7 linked regions of the Homo sapiens genome follow. The protein of the gene in region 6 interacts with the protein of the main gene of each other region in a pairwise test. Each region holds a gene or a part of one and is shown on either strand. Other genes may lie near its edges. The genes, in order: CCDC167, SERP2, TIMM23, STX6, CD300C, FAM210B and CYP4F2.

Region 1 (3,500 bases), on a different chromosome or scaffold from region 6:
AACTGGCATCCACCCCGAGCCTTATGAATTCATTAATTAAGATGCTGGCAGACAGCCACTCCACACACGCCGCCATCCAGCCGCGCTAGGTAATGAGGTTTTAGTCTCCTGACCCCCGTCAAGTGGCGCAGAGCCAGATGTAGGCTGCCGCGAGAAATCACCTGCCCAATGGCGACCTGTCGCTCTCGCCTGGCAGCAGGTGAGGCTCATTTAATGGTCAGCGGCCCCTGAACAGTCCTCTGCGTGCTGCGAGCCTTTCTCCCAGCCCCTGGCTTGGGGTTCAGGGTCCCAGCAAGGTGGCGTCTAACCGCCTGCTCTACTGTGACCTCCACTCAACTGGGCCCAGACGTCAGGGTGGAAGGTTCAATGCCTCCTCCTGCCAATCGAGCCAGTTCAGCAAATATTTATTGACAGTCCACTCACCTGCTCCTAGCCCTTGTCTCAGGAAAGTGGGAGGTTCCCCTGAGCCCTGTGCACAGCCTGCTCCAGAGCGGAGACCGTCTTCAGCCACACTTGGTGCTTCTGCCTGCCCTGCCCCACGGAGGCTACTGCAGTGGCTGGCACCATACAAATAACCACAAGCGTCAAGCCTTCCGGTGCTCTTCCTGGCCTAGGCCATTCTCTCCCCTCAGCCTACCACTTCTCATGGTCAGTGATCCTGCCTTTTTTTTTTTTTTTTTTTTTTTTTTGAGACGAAGTTTCCCTCTTGTTGCCCAGGCTAGAGTGCGATGGCACCATCTCGGCTCACCGCAACCTCCACCTCCCAGGTTCAAGCGATTCTCCTGCCTCAGCCTCCCGAGTAGCTGGGATTACAGGCATGTACCCCCATGCCTGGCTAATTTTGTATTTTTAGTAGATGGGGTTTCTCCACGTTGGTCAGGCTGGTCTCGAACTCGTGACCTCAGGTGATCCGCCCGCCTGGGCCTCCCAAAGTGTTGGGATTACAGGCGTGAGCCACCGCACCCAGCCGATCCTGCCCTCTTTTTCTGGTAAGGATTCCAGTGAATTTTCAATGACTCCCATTAGCATTTATTCCTTACAGCAGATACTGTCAACTGGCCAACACAACACCGACTCCCCACCCCTGCTCCTTTGCCCACCTCTACTCCAGAAGGTGGAAAAGCTCAGCAGATGCTCTCCCAACCTCACTGCAGCTAGGCTTGCTCATGACCCAGTTCTGGCCAATGAGACGTTCCAGAAGTCAGCTAGGAGACTCCTGGGGAAGCTTATGCTTTGTTGATAAAAGGGACAGTGTTGTTCCTTCCTCCTCCTTCCTGAGTTAAAGTTGAATATTAGACTGGAGCTGTGGCAGCTATATTGTGACCATGAGGAAACAGTGAAGAGAATGCAGAAATACCAACTCTGACATAGCTAAGCTTTTGAACCAATGCCAGTAGCCACCTACCTACAAATTTTTTTTTTTTTTTTGAGACGGGGTCTCTGTTGCCCAGACTGGAGTGCAGTGGCACGATCTTGGCTCACTGCAACCTCCACCTCCTGGGTTCAAGCAATTCTCCTGCCTCAGCCTCCCGAGTAGCTGGGATTACAGGCGTGTACCACCACTCCTGGCTAATTTTTGTATTTTTAGTAGAGATGGTGTTTCACCATGTTGGTCAGGCTGGTCTCGAACTCCTGACCTCAAATGATGCACCTGCCTCAGCCTCCCAAAATACTGGGATTACAGGCGTGAGCCACTGCACCTGGCCCCTACAAATTTCTATAAGGGGAAAAGTCTACTCCCATTTGCTTAAATCATTGAGGTCAGTTTTCTATAACTTGTAGCCAAAAGCTTTCCAAACTGATAAACTTTCTGTACTAGGGGTCAGATCCAACCAAGTTATCCACTTTAGGATACCGGCTAAGACACCACACATCTGTTAACTCAAGACCAACTGGTCACTGAAACATCTAAAGACACCAGTTTGAACAGTCCAGCTACAAAAGAAAAGTGCAATGACAAAGGAACAGCTCATTACCATCAGAGATCCGAAAACACAAACAGGTTTTACATCAGTCAAAATTCTCCTATCAGTTTAGACTGAAATTCAACCTTTCCTTCCTCCCACACAACATTAAAATCAGTACTGGGTGGGTGATTTCTCATTTGAACTATAATTTTCTTTTCTTATTAAGAATGAAATCTCAGAAGCTAAAACTCACAGTTTTTTCCAACTCTGAGATCTCATATGGTGGCAAATGAATTGGATAAAAAGACCTCAAAAGGAACCACTTTGAGGGGGAGGCTAGAGGGTGCCCTGGTTGTCCTAAGAGGTGGCTGCTTATACAGCTGGCCCAAGCCAGCCCTAAGGGTGAGTGCTGCCTGCTTGGTAATTGCTTCATTACAAGTGGAGACTGTTTGCAGGTGCTGAGATCACTCACTTGTGGGGGTTTTATTGCACTCGTCAGATTAACAAACATTTTTGATTAAATCACCACTTCATTGGCTCTGAGCACACAACTTTTAATAAGAGGACAATATCTACTGCTACTGAGCATCAGTGCACATTCAATACTCAGACCCGCTGGGGGCAACTGAGAAGCAAGGTGGGGAGACAGCCAGCCAGATGTCAGGCTTTTTCCAAGGCACACGGTTACAGATGTCAAATCTTCGAATATCCAAGCAAAAAGTAAACTTAGGGACCAAGATAGCAAATATAAACATCTACCGTGGTATGGAGAGGGTAAAACAATGGAATCTGCCCCAGTATAAGGCACTTGGAGAATACATGCCCCACCAAGTTTAAAAACGTAAAAATCCGGCCGAGTGTGGTGGCTCACGCCTGTAATCCCAGCACTTTGGGAGGCCGAGGCGGGCGGATCACTTGAGGTCAGGAGTTCAAGACCAGCTGGCCAACATGGTGAAACCCCGTCTCTACTAAAAATACAAAACTTAGCTGGGCATGGTGGTGCACGCCTGTAGTCTCAGCTTCTCGGGAGGCTAAGGCACGAGAATTGCTTGAACCCGGGAGGCTGGAGGCTGCAGTGAGCTGAGATCATGCCGCTGCACTACAGCCTGGGCAACAGAGCAAGACCCTGTCTAAAAATAAAATAAAATAAAATAAAAACTTAAAAGTCTGTCAGCCAAACAGAAGACATCTGTGATCTGTATTTGGGCCATAGTCAAGGAGTTTGTAACCCCTGGTGAAATTCAAGTCCTTCATGTTATAGATGAGTGAACGAATGCCCAAGAACGAGTTTGACTTAGCCATGGTGGAAGGATGCAAAAGAAATACAAAGGCTGGAGCTACCATGTATTGATTACCAATCCGGTGCCAGGCACGTGCTGGGCACTTAACGCAATGTCTCATTTAATCCTCACAACCACACTGTGAGGTGAGGTGCCATCTGTAGTGAGACTACAGGCTGTCTGTGAAAACACACTGGTCTCTTCCTCCATAGTAAGCAAACAGTAGCTGGCTATGTGGCCTCCTGACTGGTGAACGCATTTCCCTGATCCCTTGCAGTCAGGTGGGGTTTTAGTTCTTGCCAATGGAAAGTGG
Region 2 (3,500 bases), on a different chromosome or scaffold from region 6:
CATGTTGGCCAGGATGGTCTCAATCTCTTGACCTCATGATCTGCCCACCTTGGCCTCCCAAAGTGCTGAGATTACAGGCATGAGCCACCGCACCTGGACTGTCTTAGATTCTTTAAAGAGATTTGTAACAGTTCCTTCAAAAAGAATTGCATGGTTTCTTATTATTACCTCGAACTTTTGAAGTTATGAATTAACTTAATATGGGGGCTACATGGACTAAGACACAGATGGTTTCCTATTTGTTGACTTACATCCTGCTGATAAGTTTTTGTCTAAGGGCAAGAGTAAGCGAGAAGTAATATTTTTGAGCATCTACTTATGTCATCGTATTTATTCCTTGCCATCCTTTGAGGTACCTATTATCCACAGTTTTATAGGTAGAGAAAGCAGGGCTCAGAACTGTGTAGTAATTTCCCAAAGTTCACAGCTTTGTAGGCTGGCAGATAGTGCTAAGCACTGGTCTGCATGCTGGGACAGGGAGAAGCAGCAGTTGTTGTAGTCATAGTAACAGTGATGATAGCAGTAGCTACCAGGCAGTGAGTCCTCCATGTGTGAGGACCCTTCCTATATGTCATATGGTTTAATCCCTGTGACAGCCCTGCAAAGGCCATGATCCTCATTTTACAGAACAGGAAGCAGCCTCTAAGAGATTAATTATTTGTCCAGTCACACAGCTTTTCAGCAAAGAGCTGATATTCAACCCAATTCCATCTGATCCTAACTTTCTGCTCTAAAGTCAACTTGTTCGTCAGGATTAGCGATAGTTCCCTGATCACAAGAACAAAGTCTGAGGCATGGTAGAAGTAATCTTTTTTTTCCTAATGTTGAATATACAGCTGCCTCCTGACATTCCTATTGAGCCAGAATACAGAATGTTTATTTAATTTTTACTCCTTGTGAGCCTTGGTGGGGAGGAAAGAAACATCAGATATTTCTGCAAGCTTATAAATTGTTGTAGGGTACTTTCTCTTCCAACTGCTCCTGTTAAGACCCACCCAAGGCCGGGCACGGTGGCTCACGCCTATAATCCCAGGACTTTGGGAGGCTGAGGTGGGTGGATCACGAGGTCAGGAGATCGAGACCATTCTGGCTAACACGGTGAAATCCCGTCTCTACTAAAAATACAAAAAATTAGCCGGGCATGGTAGCGGGCACCTGTAGTCCCAGCTACTCGGGAGCCTGAGGCAGGAGAATGGCGTGAACCGGGGAGGCGGAGCTTGCAGTGAGCCGAGATCGCACCACTGCACTCCAACCTGGGCGACAGAGGAAGACTCCGTCTCAAAAAAAAAAAAAAAAAAAAAGACCCACCCAAGAACCCAAACTTAGCTAAGAAAATATCTGAGCACATCCAGAATTAAATATCACAAGTTGTTGGACCAACACCTTCACCATATCTACAGATGAGTCCCTGACACTCACATGGAGCTGATTGACTCTGATTTGACTCGTAATTCTAACAGTTTCTGTTTTCAGCTTAGTCTACGGCAACAAAATAATAGTACAGGACCCACTGCAGATTGGTGTAGTAATACAAGAGATGTGACCAGAGATGAGAAGAAAGAGACCCAAAAAATGATCAGAAGCAGAAATGGGAGCCCAGAAGTGCAGCTGACCAGAAGCATTTCAGTGTCAGATCACACGCAGCCTCCTCTGTAATGAGATCACAGCACGTCTCATCAGTTACTGGTTTTCATTATGGTGACACTGAACACTCATGAAAAGTTAGCATTGAAATATGTTGGTATCTCCAATTTAGAAAGGTAGTGATGATGGGTACAGTGTTTTTACGGGGAAAAAAAGCCAAAAAATGCATTCATGTTTGTCTACTCTTAAAACCCAGCTGTCCAAGAACGATTCCCCAAGGCCCTGTCCATCATTTCTCTTTCTATCCTTGAAGCGCAGTGTCTGACACATAGGATGTGCTCATTGATGCCAGATGATGAAACTTGAATGGCTGGTTTCCTAGGGTTCTGGATAACTCTGTTTTACCGTGGATCCTGGATGTATTCCAGGATGACTTTAAGAAGGCGAGAAGGGGTAAGACCCCTGAGAGCTCAGTGTTTATTCTGTTTTTACACATGGTTAGATGAGATGATACCCACCCTCCTTCAAAAAAAAAAAAAAAAAGCCATTCAATACATGGTAGTTACTCTTATCATTACCATCATCTTTGTCAACACTGACCACGGTTGCTCACTGGGGAAGATGTGAAAAAGAAGTTGGGATCTTCCGCTCCTGGGACACATTTGAAACCCAATAGCTGGAAGCAGGCTGAAGCTATGTAACCAGCTCTCATCCACATGGGCAAGGGTCCCAGGAGTTCTCTGTGGGCTTACAAGCTACCCACCCCCTTGACAACTCCAGTTATTAAAGGTTGAGCCCTGAATAAATAAGTGCCGCTCTCCATAAGAGACAGCCGCCTTTCAGAGAGTTCCAAGCAGCTGGAAGATACTCACGCATGGAGGGTTCTAGGCAGACAGAGGCCGGGCCCCGTGGGCTGCTCCGAGCACCTGGTCGGCCTTCCCAGCACAGGGCTCATTGTTTTACAGGTCACAGCCATTTTGAAAAGGCAGACTCACTGACCTGTTTAATGAGTGCAGTTTCTGCACGAAAGCCCATATCCCTCTCCCAGGCAGCCCCAGAACTTTGCTGGGGAAGGGGGCCAAATCTCTTCTCAGTGCCTGAGGGATTTCTGGCCTTAACTGCTGGTGGAATTAGCAGGAGTTATCTATAAATCCCTGAGGCATCCATCAGCCGACTGAGCGAGGCTGCCTTTTTAAAGAAGTTCACTGACCTCTTGTTAACTTAACTCCTTGTTAGGAAATATCTAATCAGCTGTGAGCTAACACGTCAGGGCCCAGGGGTCTGCAGAAGCCGGGCTCACTGTGGGCTGGGTTTCCAGCTGTGTGCAGTCTGGTGTCTGAGCTGTGGTGTTTTCCTCTTTTCAGCTATCTTTCAGATCATTCAGAGCATAAGGATGGGCATGTGAGAAAGCCAGGGATTTGACACCACCTCCCTCCCACTGGAGGCGGGAGGACAACGGAAGCGGTCAGCCAGTTTCTGCGGGAAACAAGCAGGCCACACGGAATAGAAAAAAACGCTCCCCCACTTGTTCCCTGATCACTTCATCGTGGATGTCAGACCAAATTGCCTTCTCACAGGACATCTTGGTGCATCCGCGTTCTCAAGCGGAAAGGACATTTTGCTTTTCTGTTGGCAGGATTAGTAGCCACGCGGGTCGTCCGCAGCAGTGCTGTTTTTTTGGTTTTTCCCTTGGTTTCACTAATGCGTGCATGTGGCCCTCTGAACGATCACTGGTTTACTTTCTATGGATACAATCTCTCCTCCATTGAGAATTGATTTTACAAATAAATGTCTTCGTTCAACCTTATACCATGTGTGGGTTACAGTGAGAAAACTAAAGTGAAGAAAACAGCAGAATAGCTCAAGGAAAGTTGGGAGGTGGGGAGATTTGGTTATGCAGTTGGAGGAGGCGCAGG
Region 3 (3,500 bases), on a different chromosome or scaffold from region 6:
ACACTCAGCTTGGTTTTCATTATTATCCTTTTAGGATACAGATGAGTTTATTTTACCTACCGGAGCTAATAAAACCCGGGGCAGATTTGAGCTGGCCTTCTTTACGATTGGAGGATGTTGCATGACAGGTGAGTGTTACATACTTTTTTCTCAAGAGTGCTCAGTTCAAGTAGTTGAGGGTGCGTAAAATCAAAAGCAATTAGAATGTTGGTTTCAGGGTTTTTTTTTTAATATTTACATTTGTCTTTTTCTATTAAATAAAAATGAAAAAGAATCAGAAGTGTAGTTATGCAGATTTGAGTTTGTTTTTTTAATATAAAGCTGTCTTTATCTGGGTGAATTGTTATGATTTACCAGGGGCTGCGTTTGGTGCAATGAATGGTCTTCGGCTAGGATTGAAGGAAACCCAGAACATGGCCTGGTCCAAACCAAGAAATGTACAGTAAGTCTCTTGTAACCATCTGATGTAGTGATACTTGAATATTAAGCTCTGTTGTATTGGTTTGATGAGTACAACCTTGAGATTACAGATGGTTAGCATAGTTATGTGCTTTTTTGTCTTTGTTTTTTAATCTTAATCAAAATAAAAGCAACTAAGGAATCAGATTACTGACTCTAAGCTTTTAAAAAGGAGTGATTTTTTTAATCAGTGTCCCTCAGTCAGCTAGTGCTATGCCAGCCTGACTTCTCAGCTGCACCTGTTACATTCTCCAACCCTATGTGACTTGCTTTTCAAATTGTTGAGTTGCTAATGGGAATTTTGGATTGTTTGGGGGCATGCAGATCCATAGGAAATGGTAATGAAGAATAAGCAGCTCATGAGAGTGATGGCTCAAGCTGCCATCATTTAACTTGAAGTTCTTACTGTCTTGACTTTATGTTTCCGAAATGATGAGCCAGATACATTTTAAATAAAATTTTTAGAATTAGAGTTAATTCCAAAAGGATAAGACACAGTTTTCTGTTAGAACTTGAAGTTACAGAGAAGGGAAAGTACAGTTAAAAGGATCGGAAAGTATGTTTTCACCCAACTTAAGAAGTAAACATGGCCAGTCCCTCTTGATATTCCTTAAACAATATGTTTAGTTTTGCCCATTTTTATGCTTCATGTAAGTGGAATCATGAGTATGTATTCTTCGATGGCTACTGTTTTGTTTTAGGACACTTTAAACTCCATCTTCCTTTCATATTGTTCAGCCAGCAGATGGCACCAGATGTGCTAGAATTAGACCATGGGAAACTGGAAGGCCTGTTAAATTGTGTGGTTTTTTGAGAGACAGGGCCTTGCTGTGTTGCCTGAGCTGGAGTGCAATGGCGCCATCACAGCTCACTGTAGCCTTGACCTCCTGGGCTCAAGTGATCCTCCCACCTCAGCCTCCCGAGTAGCTGGGACTACAGGCACATGCCACCATGCCCAGTTAATTTTTTAATTTTTTGTAGAGACGGGGTCTCACTGTATTGCTCAGGCTGTTCTCAAACTCCTGAGCTCAGGTGATCCTCTTGCCTCAGCCTTCCAAACTGCTGGGATTACAGATGTGAGCCACTGCGCCTAGCCCTGTTAAGTTTTTTATATTCCTGTTACTGTGTGGATCTCTGTCCATGCTTTACCAGCCTAGATCCTTCAATATTTTTATTACTTGTCCCTCGCTTCAATAATATTTTTAAGTTTTTGTATTATGGGGAATTTTGAATATATAAAAGTAGACAAAATACATAGCATAGTGAACACATGAACCATAACGCATCCTCAACAACCATCAACCATGGCCAGTTCTATCCCATTTCCTTCTCCTCTCCCATCTTATTTTGAGACAAAAACCCCAATATCATATTAAATACAAATTTGGAAGTAGATCTCCTAGAAAAGACAACTTGCTTCCTTTCTTAAAACAAGTTATTAAAATGCTTGTTAAAAATGAAAAAATGATGGCTGAACTTAAAATATGTTAGTAAATATGTAACATAATTAGAAACAATATACTTCTGTTTGTAAACATTACTGATTTTTTAAAACAATCTTTTAGAAAATACAAATTTTTGTTTCTGTAGAACATTAATTGAGTCGTTTAATAATTAAACTGAATGAGTTCCTTCACTCTTTGTTACTGTATTTCCATAATTTCCAGCAGTAGTCAGCTGTCTGGACAGAACCATTCCTGGGATCATGTTACACTGCTGGGAGAAGAATGTCTTCTCTTCATCCAGTTGCGTCCATCACTGTTCTGGTGGTGTCTGGCACTGGTGCAAGGCAGAACTGTGCTTCCTTGAGAGTGTGCTGAGCATTCACCTTGGCTGCTTGGTTCTAGTCTAGGAGCAGACACAGGGTGCTTTCCCCATGTATTCTAGTTAGATGGCTGATTCCTTCTCTTTAATTCTACTTTATATTCTGTACTTTGATATTCTTTACTTTATATTCTGTACTTTGATATTCTTTACTTTGATTATCTTTAACATTCTAAGCATATGTTCCCCTCCCAAAAAGAACCTTTTAGAAGCTAGCTCGCCATAGTTAACAGTGGCATTTTTTACATAGATTAGTTTCTGTAAACCTCTGTAAGATACATTCCAGGCTGTCATTCAAAGCCTTATATATATTTAATGTGTATTCATTATATTATACATTTAATAATAAGAGTTTTCCTTATTATTATTATTAAGGACTTATATAAAAGTCCTTAAGACTTTTGCCTAAAGTTTTGAAAGTTTTAACCTAATTTTCACTTATGTAGAGTAAAAACCATCCTTATTGAAATCGGAGATATTAAGATGTATTTTAGAATTTAAAAAACTTTGCGCCCTGGGTCTAGACATGTTAAATAGCCATTATTGTTTTTAAAGGTTACTAGAGAAATAATGATTCTAAATACAGATTCTTTCTCTTTCTGCCCTGATAGGATTTTGAATATGGTGACTAGGCAAGGGGCACTTTGGGCTAATACTCTAGGTTCTCTGGGTAAGTAGAGATCTCATTTGATAATAAATTGTTAAAGAAAGAATGCACAAATATCATGAACAATTTGATCAACCCATATTCTGGTCCTAGGATATGAGACAATTATGTTTAAACCCATTCCAATGCATAATGTAGATACTACTTAGGGAAAGACCATGAACTAACTTATGAAATAATCTCAGGTGCTAATACCGTTCTGAATACCATTGCTGAATTTTTAAAATCTTTTGGACACTGCACACTCTCCTTTCCAAGCACAACACCCAATAAAATCATGTTTAAATGAAATCCAGGTAATTTAGGTCCAAAGTAAAGAGCTTTGTATGTTAGGCAAGGTTCAAGGTCCTGTAGTGATACATGATAAATTAATCCAGCCCTCTTGCTATGTTTTCTTAATAGCCGGTTCATTAGTCTGTTTACCTGAGTAGATTTCAGGCACCTAATTGCCACAATTGGAATAGGTTCCTTGTAGATAATGAAAACGTTTGCAGTTCTAGGCAAAAGGTAACTTAGTAGTGCTTAGTCAGAGCCTTATGCTTTCATACCA
Region 4 (3,500 bases), on a different chromosome or scaffold from region 6:
TTATTTCCCATTTCTCTGGCACCAGTTGATCGTGGAACAGCAGGATGAGCAGTTGGAGCTGGTCTCTGGCAGCATCGGGGTGCTGAAGAACATGTCCCAGCGCATCGGAGGGGAGCTGGAGGAACAGGCAGTGTGAGTATTGAGACACCCCTCTCGCTTCAGTGAAATTGAGGGGCAGAGCCATCCTATGACACCCCTAAAAAGCCTGGCAGCTACGTGGCTGGTAAAATCAAAAGCTATTTTATTCATAGCTGCATTTTTATTCTGTTTTACAGATTAGCCTCCCCAAAAGAAGCAATTCTACTTCGTAAATTTTACTACAGGCTTTAGGTGAAGTTGTTATTATTTTTAAACACCTCCAAAAACAGACACAGATGTCTCTGAGCAGATACTCGAAGTATAGTTATGAATGGGAATATGAAACAGAGAAGCCTCTGTAACCTGTGGGAATTTTTGTTCCAGAGAGGATAGGACATGAGCTGACTTTATCATCCCATGACTCTCCTGCTATATTGAACAGACACGTTTTGCTTTGAATCTTAAATTATTGTAACTTTGTTTTTTTTTTTTAAAAAAAACTTACAAATTTAACGCCAGTTAATAAAAACTCTTTCCTCTCAGAAAAATAAATAAAAACAAAACATAACCTCAGTTTGTTTTTCCTTATGAACAATCCCTTTTGCACCCAGAAGTTCGATGGCAAAAACTGCATTCTTAAATGCTGCCACATCATTTTGTAAATCTTTTGAAAGAGAAAAATGAAAAAACAGTCCACCAGGATATTTCAGAAACTTTCCTGTCTCGATATTACGTTTATCATGACACATTGATTGATTATGAATTCTTAGTGGGCCCGTGTTCTACACCGGGCCTTCTGGAAGCCAAGGGATATAGAAGGGAACAGAGCAGACAAGACAACCCATCTCTGCCAAAGAGTTTGCCGCTTGCAGGGTAGAACGGATATTGGGTAAGTGGCGAGGGGTCATTAGGTGATGGCAGTGAAGTGGGAGGGCCCCTGTGATGGGGCCAGTGCATGCTGCCTGGAGAGCCCTGACTTAGCCCAAGGTCCCTGAGGAAGAGGGGTTTAACTGAAATCTGAAGGATGTGTGGATGCTAGCCAGGTGAGGTGAGAGTTGGTGTGGAGGCAGGTGGTGTGGGGTGTGTAGACCAGGAGGAAGAAAATGCACCTGTGAAGATGGAGAGGTGCACACGTGCATGGAGCAGAGAGGTTCCATGTGTCTGGAGGCAGAGAACAAACCAGGGAAGGCCTTGTCAGCATGGTAAGGAGGTACGACTACTTATTCTCAGCATAATGAGAGACCAGTGGAGGTGAGGTGAGGAGTGATGGTGTGATCAGGTGTGATTTAGATGATGTGCTGCAGTGGAGTCAGGTAGGGAGACCAGGTAGGAAGCTGGAGTAGCCAGAATCTGTTTCATGTCTATCTAAAATGGGTCCTGACCCTAAAGTTCAGTTTGAGGAGGGGAAAGGACTAATGGCCTGAGCTTCTCTGTTGATGAGGCAGCCTGGCTGGGCAGTGGGTAATAGAGTCAGAGGGACTTCCAGTTAAAGATGGTGCATTGACACACCCCTACCTCCACTCCCTCTCCACAGCTCACTAGAACAATAGTAAAGGGGTTTGTTTTTAAGGGCATGAAACCGCTGGGCATGGTGGTTCACACCTGTAGTCCCAAGTACTAGGGAAGGAGGCTGAGGTGGGAGGATTGTTTGAGCCCAGGTGTTTGAGGCTGCAGTGAGCTATGATGGCACCACTGTACTCCAACCTGGGTGACAGAGGAGACCCTGTCTCTAAAAAAATAGAAATAACAGATAAATGGGAAAAAGCATGGGATTTGGACTTAGACCTGTGCCATCCAGTATAATAGCTACTAGCCACATGTGGCTGTTGAGTAAGTGTTATGTGGCCAGTCTGAATTGAGATGTGCTCCAGAGGTAAAATGCTTACTGGATTTTGAAGACTTCATATAGAAAAATATAAAATAGCTTATTAATAATTTTTATATTACATGTTGAAATTACAGTATTTTGGCTATATTAAACTAAATACAACAGAATTAATTTCACCTGTTTCTTTTGAAATTTTTACAAACATGGCTACTAGAAAATGTAAAATGGCATATGTGACTCATATTTTTGTTGGATGGTACTGAGATAGATTTGGGCTAGCAACTTGGTTGGTGAGTGTCCATGGACTGAAGGTCGGATGATGTGCCTGATGATGTGCCTGTTTTGTCTTCAGTATGAAAAGTCATACCTAGCGCAGAAAGGTAGCTCTTGCTTTTTAGAGTTTGGCCCTGCCTGGATAGGCCTGCCAGCTGCAGCGCCAAGATGCTGCCAGGATCTAAAATGAGTTAAATATTTTTTAATTTGAAAATTTAGGTAAGGGACAAAGACTTATTTTAGTTGTCAACATATATGTAACAGTTGATTTAATGAAGAGTTGGTTGCCCTGAATCCTGCAAGGCTGTCAGGTGTCTATTGTGGGCACAGATCAAGACCAGGAGTTTCTAACTGCCATTGATGCTGTCAGAGTTAATACAGCCTTTTTAGTAAGACTGTTAGTACTAATTGGCATATTACATTCTAGCCTCAGAATAATCATTTACTAATCAAAAGTTGAAAAGTCTGGAATATTTAGTGACTTATGAAATAGGCACTGCTGAAATAGTATTTTGGGGTTTTCTTTCCCAGCTGCACATTGGACAGCAAATAGTGTAAGCCTGCTGGAGTCAGTTTTCCTAGTGGGAAATACTGGTTTCTCTGTGAGGACAGATGGGGAAATGCGCGTGTGCATGCACAGACACACTGTCACACACCCCATCAGGGATGTTAGTCCTGAGGCCTTCTGGGTTTATAATAAAGCACGTAGTGCCTTATAGGAGGTTATTTTATTAAAGTACATTCCTTAACTCATATTGACATAAAGTGCTTTTGTTTATTACCTGGTTCTCACAAGAGCCCTGTGAGGGAAGTTGAGCTGATAGGATTGCCCTATTTTACAGGTGAGGAAACAGTCCCAAAGAGTTATAGAGTATGTTGTCGAAGGTAGCAATGTAAACAAGTGGCAAAGCCTGGTTGTCTGCCTCAGATAGCATTGTTTCTACCACATTGCACTGCCACTGAGTTTGTGTTATTGTATAGACAGGTCTATAGTCTTGCAGTTCTGAAATCTAGGAAGCTCTAAAGAAATCTCGTTGTTTTTTTTTTCTTTAAATTTGCCGCAAGCTCATGTTACAGAAAAACCTTACCTGAACTGACTCCAACTGTGATTCCTCATAGTTTTCTCTGCAGAAATATTAAGTATCTGATTACGGGGACTGCCCCAGACCCTCCTGGTGGTGTCCTCCTAGTGGTGTCGACTAATACAAAGGATATGTAATTTAGGCTTTTTTTAATCCTGAGAATTCCAAAATCAAAATCCTATCTTGTCCCAAGGATTTTGGATAACAGAGTGAGGTCCTGAAACCCAGTGTTGCCTATT
Region 5 (2,543 bases), on a different chromosome or scaffold from region 6:
TGATGGATGCAGGGCATCTGTCCAGCACATCATTGGTGACCTTGTCTGTGAAAATTGGAGCAGAACAGGTGAGAGTAAGTGGGAGACCCATGTGATGTCATCAAGGTTGACCTGTGTTTCACCCACAGCCGGGACGACCACAGCCTCCAGCCCCCAGAGCTCCATGGGCACCTCAGGTCCTCCCACGAAGCTGCCCGTGCACACCTGGCCCAGCGTGACCAGAAAGGACAGCCCCGAACCCAGCCCACACCCTGGGTAAGGTGCCTGCGCATAGGACTGGGCCACGCTGGCGGCCTCCCCACTGCGTGTGATGTTTAGGGGACTCGGATGTCCCTTCTTCCAGTCCCTTCTTTGTTCGCACCTCCCACACCAAACGTGAAGGTTCTATTAAGTGTCAGGCGCTCCTTTTGGGATTGGGTCACAGCAGGGAACCACACAGCCACTGTCCTGCCCTGGTGGAAGTTGAGTTCTACTGCGTGGATTCACGCATTGAGCAAGTCAGCACAGAGGCTGATGTACAAATACAGCAAAGGGTAATGAATGCTGGGATGAGATGTTTGACTCTTGGGTTTGGGGAGAGCGTGTGCAGGTGTTGGAGTTGCTATTTCACTGACGATGATCAGAAGAGGGTTTGAGAATTAGAGGACATGAGCACAGAGACCTCAAGGGTTGGGGGCTGGGCACTCTGGGGTCTGGAGGAAGAAGGGTCCAGGTGGAGGGAGGAGTGAGGCAAATGTCCTGCGAGGAGCCTTGGGACCTGGCCAGGCCAGGGAAGGGGGCAGATGCTCTGGGGTCCGGTGGCCCTGGTCCTCTCCCCTGCCTCTCTCGCAGCCCTGGCCAGAGTTTCATCCTGTTTGATAAGCCCAGTCCTCTGAGGAGCTGAGAGCTGAGCTGTCCATTCATTAATTCCTTCAACAACCACTGAAGTTGTAGGGCAGATTATTGGAGACTCCGGGTAGGCAGCAGGTACTCACTGTGAATGAAACAAATGGTCCCTGCCCTCCTGGAAACGCTGTGTACAGGAGAGTTGACACCAAACAAATAACCCTTTGTGAATTCCGGGACCCCAGCTGGGTAACCCTCCATGGGGAGCACAGAGGTAGACAGCTGCGTCCTGGACACAGACCCTGCCTGGATCCCTGGCGTGACCTCACGTCCTCTCATGGTCCTGCCCTTCCTGTGTCACAGTCCTCAGGTCAAGGGTAAATCCGAGGCTGAGGGTTAGGGGCCGTGATGCTGAGACGGGATGGACTGTCCAGGGGGGTGCTTATGTGGTTGGCTGTGGTCACAGGATTGGGACACAAGGGTCAGGGGATGGTGGAGGGCACCTGGGCCTCCCCTGGGGAGGTGACTCACTGCCTGTCACCGTGTCCCCACAGCTCCCTGTTCAGCAATGTCCGCTTCCTGCTCCTGGTCCTCTTGGAGCTGCCCCTGCTCCTGAGCATGCTGGGTGCCGTCCTCTGGGTGAACAGACCTCAGAGAAGCTCTAGAAGCAGGCAGAATTGGCCCAAGGGTGAGAACCAGTAGCATCTGCTGTCCATCAAGGCCCTGTGCTGCAACAGAGCCCCTCTGGGGGACTGGAATGACCTCCTGACCACTCCCTCCCGGGCTGCTCTCTCCACATCTCCTGGAATCCTTTGTGAGCCTCCTTCAGCCTTTTCCCTGTGCCCGATCCTCATGTGTCACATGTGAACCTGACGGACATGGACGCCCTGAGCTGTGAGTCCACGTCTCATGTGCACGCCCCGGCCAGCTAAGCCTCGGGCCGTCAGCAATACCTCTGAGTGCCCGGATGCCCTCCCTGCACCCTTCCATTTCTCCAGGAGCCTGGCACTGCTTCCTCCACCGTTTTCACAGGGAGAAGCAGGTCTAGGACTCCCCTGCACCTTTGCCACCATAATGGCCCACACTCCCTGGGTCCAGGAGTGTAGAATATGCGGCTGCTTCCATTTGCTGAGTGTGTCGATTCAATGATGCTTTCAAACTTTAATAAATGACAATGTGTAGGTTTGGGATGTATCAGGCCCACTCAGTCAGACCTGAGTGAGAAATCCATTGTTCCCTGATTTCCACAGGCCTTTGCTGAGAATAGTGGACCAAGCCCCATGTTAGGCCTCTCGGAATGGGGGTCCCTGCAGAAAAGGATCCAGAATTTCCCCCAAAGCCTGACTATTCCCTCCTTCAGGTAGACACATCCTGGCCAGTGTCTTTAGGTCCCTCTGGGAGAGCTGGTAGAAGATTCTCAGTGTGAACTGTGGTAGCATAACCAGGCCTACCCTTCCTCCTTCTTCAAGGGGACCTGACCTCTCCTTCATTCCAGGGCTGTGGGTTTTAACTGGTGCAAATTTGGAAACGGATGGAGGGCTATGACTCCTTGATGTGGTAGTTAAGTGAGTCTTTTGCTCAGTAGTGTAGACCATGTCTGTCTATACAGACGAAAGATGTTATCATTTGCCCACCATTTCAGTTCCAGGGTCGCCATGATGACCTGGCCAACACCCAAGACCCCTGTGAGGCAGATGATTCCCATGAGTCCTCCTGGT
Region 6 (3,500 bases):
TACAGGCATGCACCACTGCACCCAGCTGATTTGTTTGTTTGTTTGTTTTGGGGGACGGACTCTCGCTCTGTTGCCAGACTGGAGTGCAGTGGCGTGATCTCGGCTCACTGCAAGCTCTGCCTCCCGGGTTCAAGTGGTTCTCCTGCCTCAGCCTCCCGAGTAGCTGGGACTACAGTCGCATGCCACCAAGCCTGGCTAATTTTTGTCTTTTTAGTAGAGCCAGGGTTTCACCCTGTTGGCCAGGATGGTCTCAATCTCTTGACCTAGTGATCCGCCCCCTCGGCCTCCCAAAGTGCTGAGATTACAGGTGTGAGCCCCCGCGTCAGGCCGATTGTATGTTTTTTTGTTGTGTTGAGACAAGAGTCTTGCTATGCTGCCCAGGCTGGTCTTGAACTCCTGAGCTCAAGCGATCCTCCCACCTCGGCCTCCCAAAGTGCTAGGATTACAGGCGTGAGCCACTGCACCTGGCCACTAAGACTTTTATTCATTCAGCTACTTCATTACATTTTTTAAAATACTGTAAATCTTATAGCCAAATCAATTTCTTCATTTAATCCCTTGCTGTAATAATTGTTTTCTTTGCTTCTTCCCCCCTAGTGGTGTGGACATGCCTGCAATCCTGCTGAAACTCGGATTTAAAGAGTCCCTGGTACAGTCAAAAATGGCAGCAGGCACAAGTACCTTCGTGGTGGCCTATGCAATCCACAAGCTGTTTGCGCCAGTGAGAATCAGCATTACGCTAGTCTCTGTGCCCTTGATTGTCAGATATTTTCGAAAAGTGGGATTTTTTAAACCTCCAGCTGCAAAACCTTAATGAACTCTTCAGTCGTACACACTGAAAACCTATTTCTTCTAAATTACATGATTTGGATTGGTTTTAGGGTTTTAGGGTTGTAGGGTTTCTTTTGGAGAGGTAGGGGGCTAATTGCTATGTTCTCATGGATAAACTTTGCCAGCAAAAATCAGGCTTTTGAACAATTTTAATTTTTTGCCTCATAAATTTTGTGAATGCTATTCATTATAGGGCTTGTATATATAATCTAAAATGTCAGCAAGGCATCGGAGATGGGTTAACATCTCAAAACAAAATAGCCTACAAATGTTCCTTGTGGGAGACTTTGGCGAGGGTCTGTGGGTAAAAGCACCAGGGGGTTAATCTTGGCTCAGTTTCCTAAAAAGCATTGATTAATTTAACTGGCTTTTAAATATCCCCTTCCGCTGATATTTGTTGTCAGCTGCCTACAGTTTAATATGCAGCGTTCACAAAACAGCTGCCAGTGCTACAATTAATGAAGCAAAACTTAATATGTAATCACAATCTAAATTAGCATCAATACTTTGACATTCATTACATTGGTTTGGGGGAAGAAAAGTAGTTCTGGTATGTTTCATTGATCCCCAGATACCTTCCAATCTGGACATGATGGGGCTGATTCCAGATGGTTTTTCTGAAATTTCATTAAGGTAGGTCAGCGTCATTTGTCTCTGTTTAGGTAAAATATAAAAACCCTGCCCAGTAGCAGTGGCATCGCTTGGTTCCTGATGCCCATGTTCCAGAGGAATTCGGATACCACAAACAGCTAAGACAATCTCAGCTTTTCTTAGACAATCTTCTATCTCAAACTTCAGACATTCCAGAATTGTCATGATGTTTACACTGTCTGAGTTAAAAATCCTGTTCAAGAAAAAAAAAGATTTTGTATCACTTCTTAAAAAGGAATATTCATAGCACTTGTCACAAATAGAAGGCAACCATGAGATAATACAAGCCAGGGAGAGGCTTGTATTACATGACAGGTGTAATTAGTCTGCTGAGCCAGCTTTACCCAATGAAGGGCATATGTGTTAGAGAGATTAGCTAAGAGTAGAAATTCGAGCATAGAGGCCAGGTGCGGTGGCTCACGCCTGTAATCCCAGCACTTTGGGAGGTTGAGGCAGGCGTGTCACTTGAGGCCAGGAGTTCGAGACCAGCCTGGCCAACATGATGAAACCCCGTCTCTACTACAAATACAAAAATTAGCCGGGTGTGGTGGCACACGCCTGTAGTCCCAGCTACTGGGGAGGCTGAGGCAGCATTGCTTGAACCCAGGAGGTGGAGGTTGCAGTGAGCCAAGATCACACCACTGCACTCCAGCCTGGGCGACAGAGGGAGACACTGTCTCCAAAAGAAAGAAATCCCAGCGTAGATCCAAACTGAGACACTGAGGCTTCGTCCTTATAGTAGTCAGGAGCAGGCGATTGAAGTAATTCTGTCCTGCGGGGTTCAGCATCATGCACGTTCCCCCTGGGCCATTCTCTGATGCAGGGCACTTGCTCCACACTCTGGGAACCCAGATTCACCAGTCTGCCCTGTCACGTAGTTGAAGGAGTTGCATTTATCTTTCTGGCTCCTAATTCCTTTAAAATTACATTTGTTGCAGAACCTCCACAAGGCTAAATAAAATTACATTTGTGACCATCAGAGAACTGAATAAACCATTAACTGGCCATCCTGGTTTTGCAGAGATCAGGTTGTTGACAGTTCCTGGTTGACCCACAGCTACCCATGTCAGTTATCTCCACTAACATATCCAAGAATCTTTGTAGGACAATTTCTCCACCTGCAAGGTCTTTCAGGTAGAACTCTTCTTTTAAGGCAATTAGCCCATTGCCAAAAGGTTTTACTGTCTTAAAGCTGTCTTTCTGAGATCTAATTCCAAGGACTTCTCCACAGCTAAGTGAGATGCCTCACACCATTAGGTGATGCTTTGGACAGAACAGAGTATTTTCATCTTGTGTTTAAAGCAATTCCTTGGCTTCGGCTCCTCACCACTTTCTATGCCAGTCTCCCATTTATGTCCCTAGTAATGCCTATGCAAAAAAAAAAAAAGAAAAAAAAGAAAAACTGATGGTGAAACCTACAGGTTTAAGGGCTTAAATCTCAAACTTTGTTAGGAGTAACAGGAGCGTGCTGAGCGGGCAAGCAATAAAACAAATCATACCAAAAAGCCACATTGCTCTCTCCTAAGCCCCAACCCCACTCCACTCCTGTGGCCAGGGGTCCAAACAGAAAATAACCGGAGAAGACAAGGAGGTCAAAGGATCAGGGAACTAAGCATTATGTGAATTCACCAGCAAGATGTACAGAACGCCTGTGTTTACATTGTTTTTATGGAACTAGCAGAATAAAACATCTATTTTAAAAATGAAAGCCATTGTTTCTCTAATTTATCTGACAAAGTGAGCAGCTTAAATTCTGTGAAACATCTTTATAGTTTATGAACTTTTTTATATTCCTTCTGGTAAGCCATGGTTGTTGCTGATGATGAAGTGGCACTGTGACCAGTGTATTAATGTGCTACTACAATGAGCTTTTTCTTTGCTTGTGTGGGATTGTCTGGGGAAACGTCCCAAGTCTCACTGGTGTCACTGGGAAAGTCAGTCACGTGATAATAACTATAGCTTGGGAGGGTGGCACATGAACTATTTGGGAAGGTCAAAGTCAGTTCAGCTCAAGACTA
Region 7 (3,500 bases), on a different chromosome or scaffold from region 6:
GTTTGAAAGGAGAGTGCAGGGTGAGGCAATTGGACATCGTTAGTATTCAAGGCCCCTTGCCAGGCCTAGCATCACCTTGCCTGTCCCAAAGCCTAGAACAATGAGGAGGACTTGTGGCTGGTGGGGGATCTGGGCTGCTACTTCCATGATGTCCACCTCTGGTGGGTCAATTCCCTTTACCCCATCCTATAGCTTGTCTGCCCTAAGTTCGTTGCTCTCCTGCTGCAGGTCCCGGGGATCTCCAAGAGGAGACTCCACCCCAGCTTGGGTCCCTTTCCTTGACCCCTGTGCTTCCCATCGTTGGACGGGCGAGGCTGAGCAGGGGGAATGGGCAGCATCCTACAGAGACCATGGCTCTGACCTCAAAATGCTGAGTGACTCTGGGCTGGTACCCAGCTGTCTCTGGTTATTGAAGTCTCTTTCAGTTGTGAGTGGTGGAAACCCAACCTGGTGTGGTCTAAGCAAAGAAAGATAATCTATTGACTTTAAAGTCCAGGGAGGGTGGCCTTCAGGCATGGCTGGATCCAGGTCTCACACAAGGTCACTGGAAATCTGTCTTTCTCTCTTGGCTTTAGCTTTCTCCATGTCGCTTTTCCTATCAAGGTGGCCTTTTCCTCATGATGTCAACGATGAGTCCCAGAAGCTCAGTTCTTATGGGAAAGGCCACCTTTCCCCTAGAGTTCCCAGAAATGGCCCATGGTTTACTTCTCCTGGCCTGGATCACAGGACCAATTTTTCACCCAATCCCTGTGTCTCTGATTGCCCAGTCTTGGTAGGCCTGGGTCTTCCAGAGCTACTGTTTTGGGGGCACAAAGAAGTTTGTTGGTTAAGGATTCAGGCCATGGGTGCAGACAGACCTAGTCTTAGGCCTCAGGCTTGCCGTGGTCTGGGACTGTGGGCAAGTGACTTTATTGTTCAGAGCCTCAGGCTCTTCATCTGGAAAATGGGATGAATGAGAGCCCAGGGAACATGGTGTGTGGATCCACATGGGGAAAGACCTTTTCTGTCTGTGTAACTGAAGGACTGGAGAGTCCTGCATGGAGGATGTGAGGAGGCAGGGGGTGCTCAGCACTGACAGGAGGATGAGATGCTGCTTGAAATTCTCAGGGAGAGGGCTTCGACCTCTTCCCTGCAGATCCTTCTCTCTCACAGCCTAGGAGAGCATGAATTGGGTCCTGTGTGTTTTTCTCCAGATTCACAGCTCAGAAGAAGGTCTCCTATACACACAAAGCCTGGCGTGCACCTTTGGGGATATGGGCTGCTGGTGGGTGGGGCCCTGGCAGGCAGTCATCCACATCTTTCTCCCCACGTGCATCAAGCCTGTGCTCTTTGCTCCAGGTAGACATCGCACTGGCCAAGCTTTGCCCACAGCTGGGGTTGCTGTGCTGCCTCCAGCTGAACACGTGACCGATGTGCAGACAGGAGGGGCTGTGGTGGAGATGCCATTGCCTCCATCGCCCCTGGACTTCCACCTGTCTAACCTCTGTTGCTGTTTGCTCATGTCTGGGGCGTGTCTCTACAATGGCTGTTATATGGCCAGGTCTGCCTTGTATATTTACACCTGGGTCCTGGTTACACCTGAAATATGTTATACCTGGTTACATCTGGTATATAATTCCAACTGGGGTCATGTAGAGCTGGTCAAGTTTGGGGCTTATCTGTGGCCAAGGACATTTGGGGCATGTGAGGGCCTGTTTGGTTCTTGTCTCAGGTGCTGTTTGACACTGCCGTTTTCTCCTGGTGGTCCAAACATCTGGGCGTTGTGTGAGGTCTGGGGGTTGTGTGAGGTCTGGGACCCAGGGTCCCTATGTGAACTGTCTGAGACATTATTTGAGTCTTGTCTGAGGCATGTGTTATAGTATATTTGGGTCATGCCTGAGGAACAGTCTGGTTCACATGTTGGCTATGTCTGTGACATTAAAGGTACCATATTTATATTCAACCCAGAGCCTGTATGTGGAACACGCTTTTAAGATCATGTTAGACCATCTCATGTGCATGTTAGAGCACACCATCTCATGTTAGGAATTGTCATGTATTTTGTGGCCATGTCAGGACATGTGAACACATGTCAGGGTCATGTCTCATGTCCAGGTCCATGTCAGAAGATGCCATATCAGAAGATGTCAGAGAGTGCTGGGACAGACAGGGTGTCCTAGGTCCTTGTGAAGCATTCTGTAGAATGCTGAGCTGTGCTCAGGGGTTGCGGAACATGTTGGATCGTGTAGGAGGCATGTCAAGGCATGCTGGAACCCTGACATAGCTCCTACACGCCATGTTAGGCAGTGTCATTGCTGTACTGTGCTGCTGTAGCCTGGTCTGGTCTTCCCTCCCCTCCCCATCCTCCCTTCTTCCTCTGCCCTTGGCCCTCTTCCTGCTATGTGGGGCTCAGAGTGGGAGAAGTGCAAACCTCTTGCTGGGAGCCTCCACCCACCCCCAAAGTCCCTCTTTCACCTGCCTCCATGGCCCCTGATTGTCCTCATTTATGTCAGCTGCCATTGCACCAAAGGACAAGTTCTTCTACAGCTTCCTGGAGCCCTGGCTGGGTGAGTATCTGCAGGTGAACAGGGTTGGGAAAAACGTTGGGGGGCCAGGGGAGGGAGAGGTCCTTGCCCATGGCCCTTGGCTGCCCTGCTAGGGGATGGGCTCCTGCTGAGTGCTGGTGACAAGTGGAGCCGCCACCGTCGGATGCTGACGCCTGCCTTCCATTTCAACATCCTGAAGCCCTATATGAAGATTTTCAATGAGAGTGTGAACATCATGCACGTGAGTTATTTGAAGCCAAGGTCCCACTTGCAGCCTTGGGGTGAAAGGACAACAGAGAGATCTAGTCTGGAGTTTTGGCTCTGCTGGGTGCCATTGGGCCATTGCTCTTTCTCACTGAGCCTTGGTTTCCTCATCTGTAAAATGGGGATAATAATCCCTACTTAAAAGATGGTCAGAGTAATGTAATGGAGTCACGTCTCTGGTGCATAGCAGGTGCCCAGAAGGTGTCTGTTTCTATGTTTCCATCACCAAAGCCCTGTAAACACAAGAGGGTCATGACAACAATTTCATAGTAGCTGTTGCTGATAAGAAACCACCTGAAAACTCATTGGTTTAAACCAATAAGTGTTTATGTTTGCTAATAAGTCTTTGGGACAGTTGGCAGGTTCTTCTGTATATGGAAGGGACCACTCATGGTACATGAGCAGCTGGGGGTCAGGTAGGCAGCCTTGCAGGTGTTGACTGAATTCTGCCACATGTTTGGGTTTTGGCTGGGACATGTTTGGGTTCTCTCACGTGTCTAGGTTTGGCCTCATCTGGGACCCCTGGATGTTCCTCCCTATGATTGTCTCCTTCCAGAAGGCGCGCCATGGTTCACAATGCAGGCAGGGTTCCAAGGAGTAAGACAAGGCTTAGCTTCGTTAGTTATTAACTCATCATTTTCACCACATTGTATTTTGACATCGAAAGCCAAAAGTCCAACACAGAATCAAAGGCAGGGGGATAAAATAGGC

The links.
Region 1: the proteins of FAM210B (region 6) and CCDC167 interact in binary tests that used the Homo sapiens proteins (3 or more experiments, as listed by UniProt).
Region 2: the proteins of FAM210B (region 6) and SERP2 interact in binary tests that used the Homo sapiens proteins (3 or more experiments, as listed by UniProt).
Region 3: the proteins of FAM210B (region 6) and TIMM23 interact in binary tests that used the Homo sapiens proteins (3 or more experiments, as listed by UniProt).
Region 4: the proteins of FAM210B (region 6) and STX6 interact in binary tests that used the Homo sapiens proteins (3 or more experiments, as listed by UniProt).
Region 5: the proteins of FAM210B (region 6) and CD300C interact in binary tests that used the Homo sapiens proteins (3 or more experiments, as listed by UniProt).
Region 7: the proteins of FAM210B (region 6) and CYP4F2 interact in binary tests that used the Homo sapiens proteins (3 or more experiments, as listed by UniProt).

What each region holds. Positions count from the first base shown.
Region 1 is NC_000006.12:37,493,394-37,496,893, forward strand, and holds part of CCDC167 (coiled-coil domain-containing protein 167), read right to left. Parts: intron 1-3,500.
Region 2 is NC_000013.11:44,394,324-44,397,823, forward strand, and holds the end of SERP2 (stress-associated endoplasmic reticulum protein 2), read left to right. Parts: intron 1-2,948; coding exon 2,949-2,989; 3' UTR 2,990-3,391; downstream 3,392-3,500. UniProt on the Homo sapiens protein: Interacts with target proteins during their translocation into the lumen of the endoplasmic reticulum. Protects unfolded target proteins against degradation during ER stress. May facilitate glycosylation of target proteins after termination of ER stress.
Region 3 is NC_000010.11:45,982,489-45,985,988, forward strand, and holds part of TIMM23 (mitochondrial import inner membrane translocase subunit Tim23), read left to right. Parts: intron 1-34; coding exon 35-128; intron 129-357; coding exon 358-442; intron 443-2,119; exon of another isoform or gene 2,120-2,323; intron 2,324-2,894; coding exon 2,895-2,953; intron 2,954-3,500. UniProt on the Homo sapiens protein: Essential component of the TIM23 complex, a complex that mediates the translocation of transit peptide-containing proteins across the mitochondrial inner membrane.
Region 4 is NC_000001.11:180,984,871-180,988,370, reverse strand, and holds part of STX6 (syntaxin-6), read left to right. Parts: intron 1-25; coding exon 26-132; intron 133-3,500. UniProt on the Homo sapiens protein: SNARE promoting movement of transport vesicles to target membranes. Targets endosomes to the trans-Golgi network, and may therefore function in retrograde trafficking.
Region 5 is NC_000017.11:74,540,573-74,543,115, reverse strand, and holds the end of CD300C (CMRF35-like molecule 6 precursor), read left to right. Parts: intron 1-128; coding exon 129-255; intron 256-1,379; coding exon 1,380-1,527; 3' UTR 1,528-2,043; downstream 2,044-2,543.
Region 6 is NC_000020.11:56,365,474-56,368,973, forward strand, and holds the end of FAM210B (protein FAM210B, mitochondrial), read left to right. Parts: intron 1-597; coding exon 598-814; 3' UTR 815-3,190; downstream 3,191-3,500. UniProt on the Homo sapiens protein: Plays a role in erythroid differentiation. Involved in cell proliferation and tumor cell growth suppression. Involved in the metabolic reprogramming of cancer cells in a PDK4-dependent manner.
Region 7 is NC_000019.10:15,891,575-15,895,074, reverse strand, and holds part of CYP4F2 (cytochrome P450 4F2 precursor), read left to right. Parts: intron 1-2,492; coding exon 2,493-2,546; intron 2,547-2,638; coding exon 2,639-2,766; intron 2,767-3,500. UniProt on the Homo sapiens protein: A cytochrome P450 monooxygenase involved in the metabolism of various endogenous substrates, including fatty acids, eicosanoids and vitamins.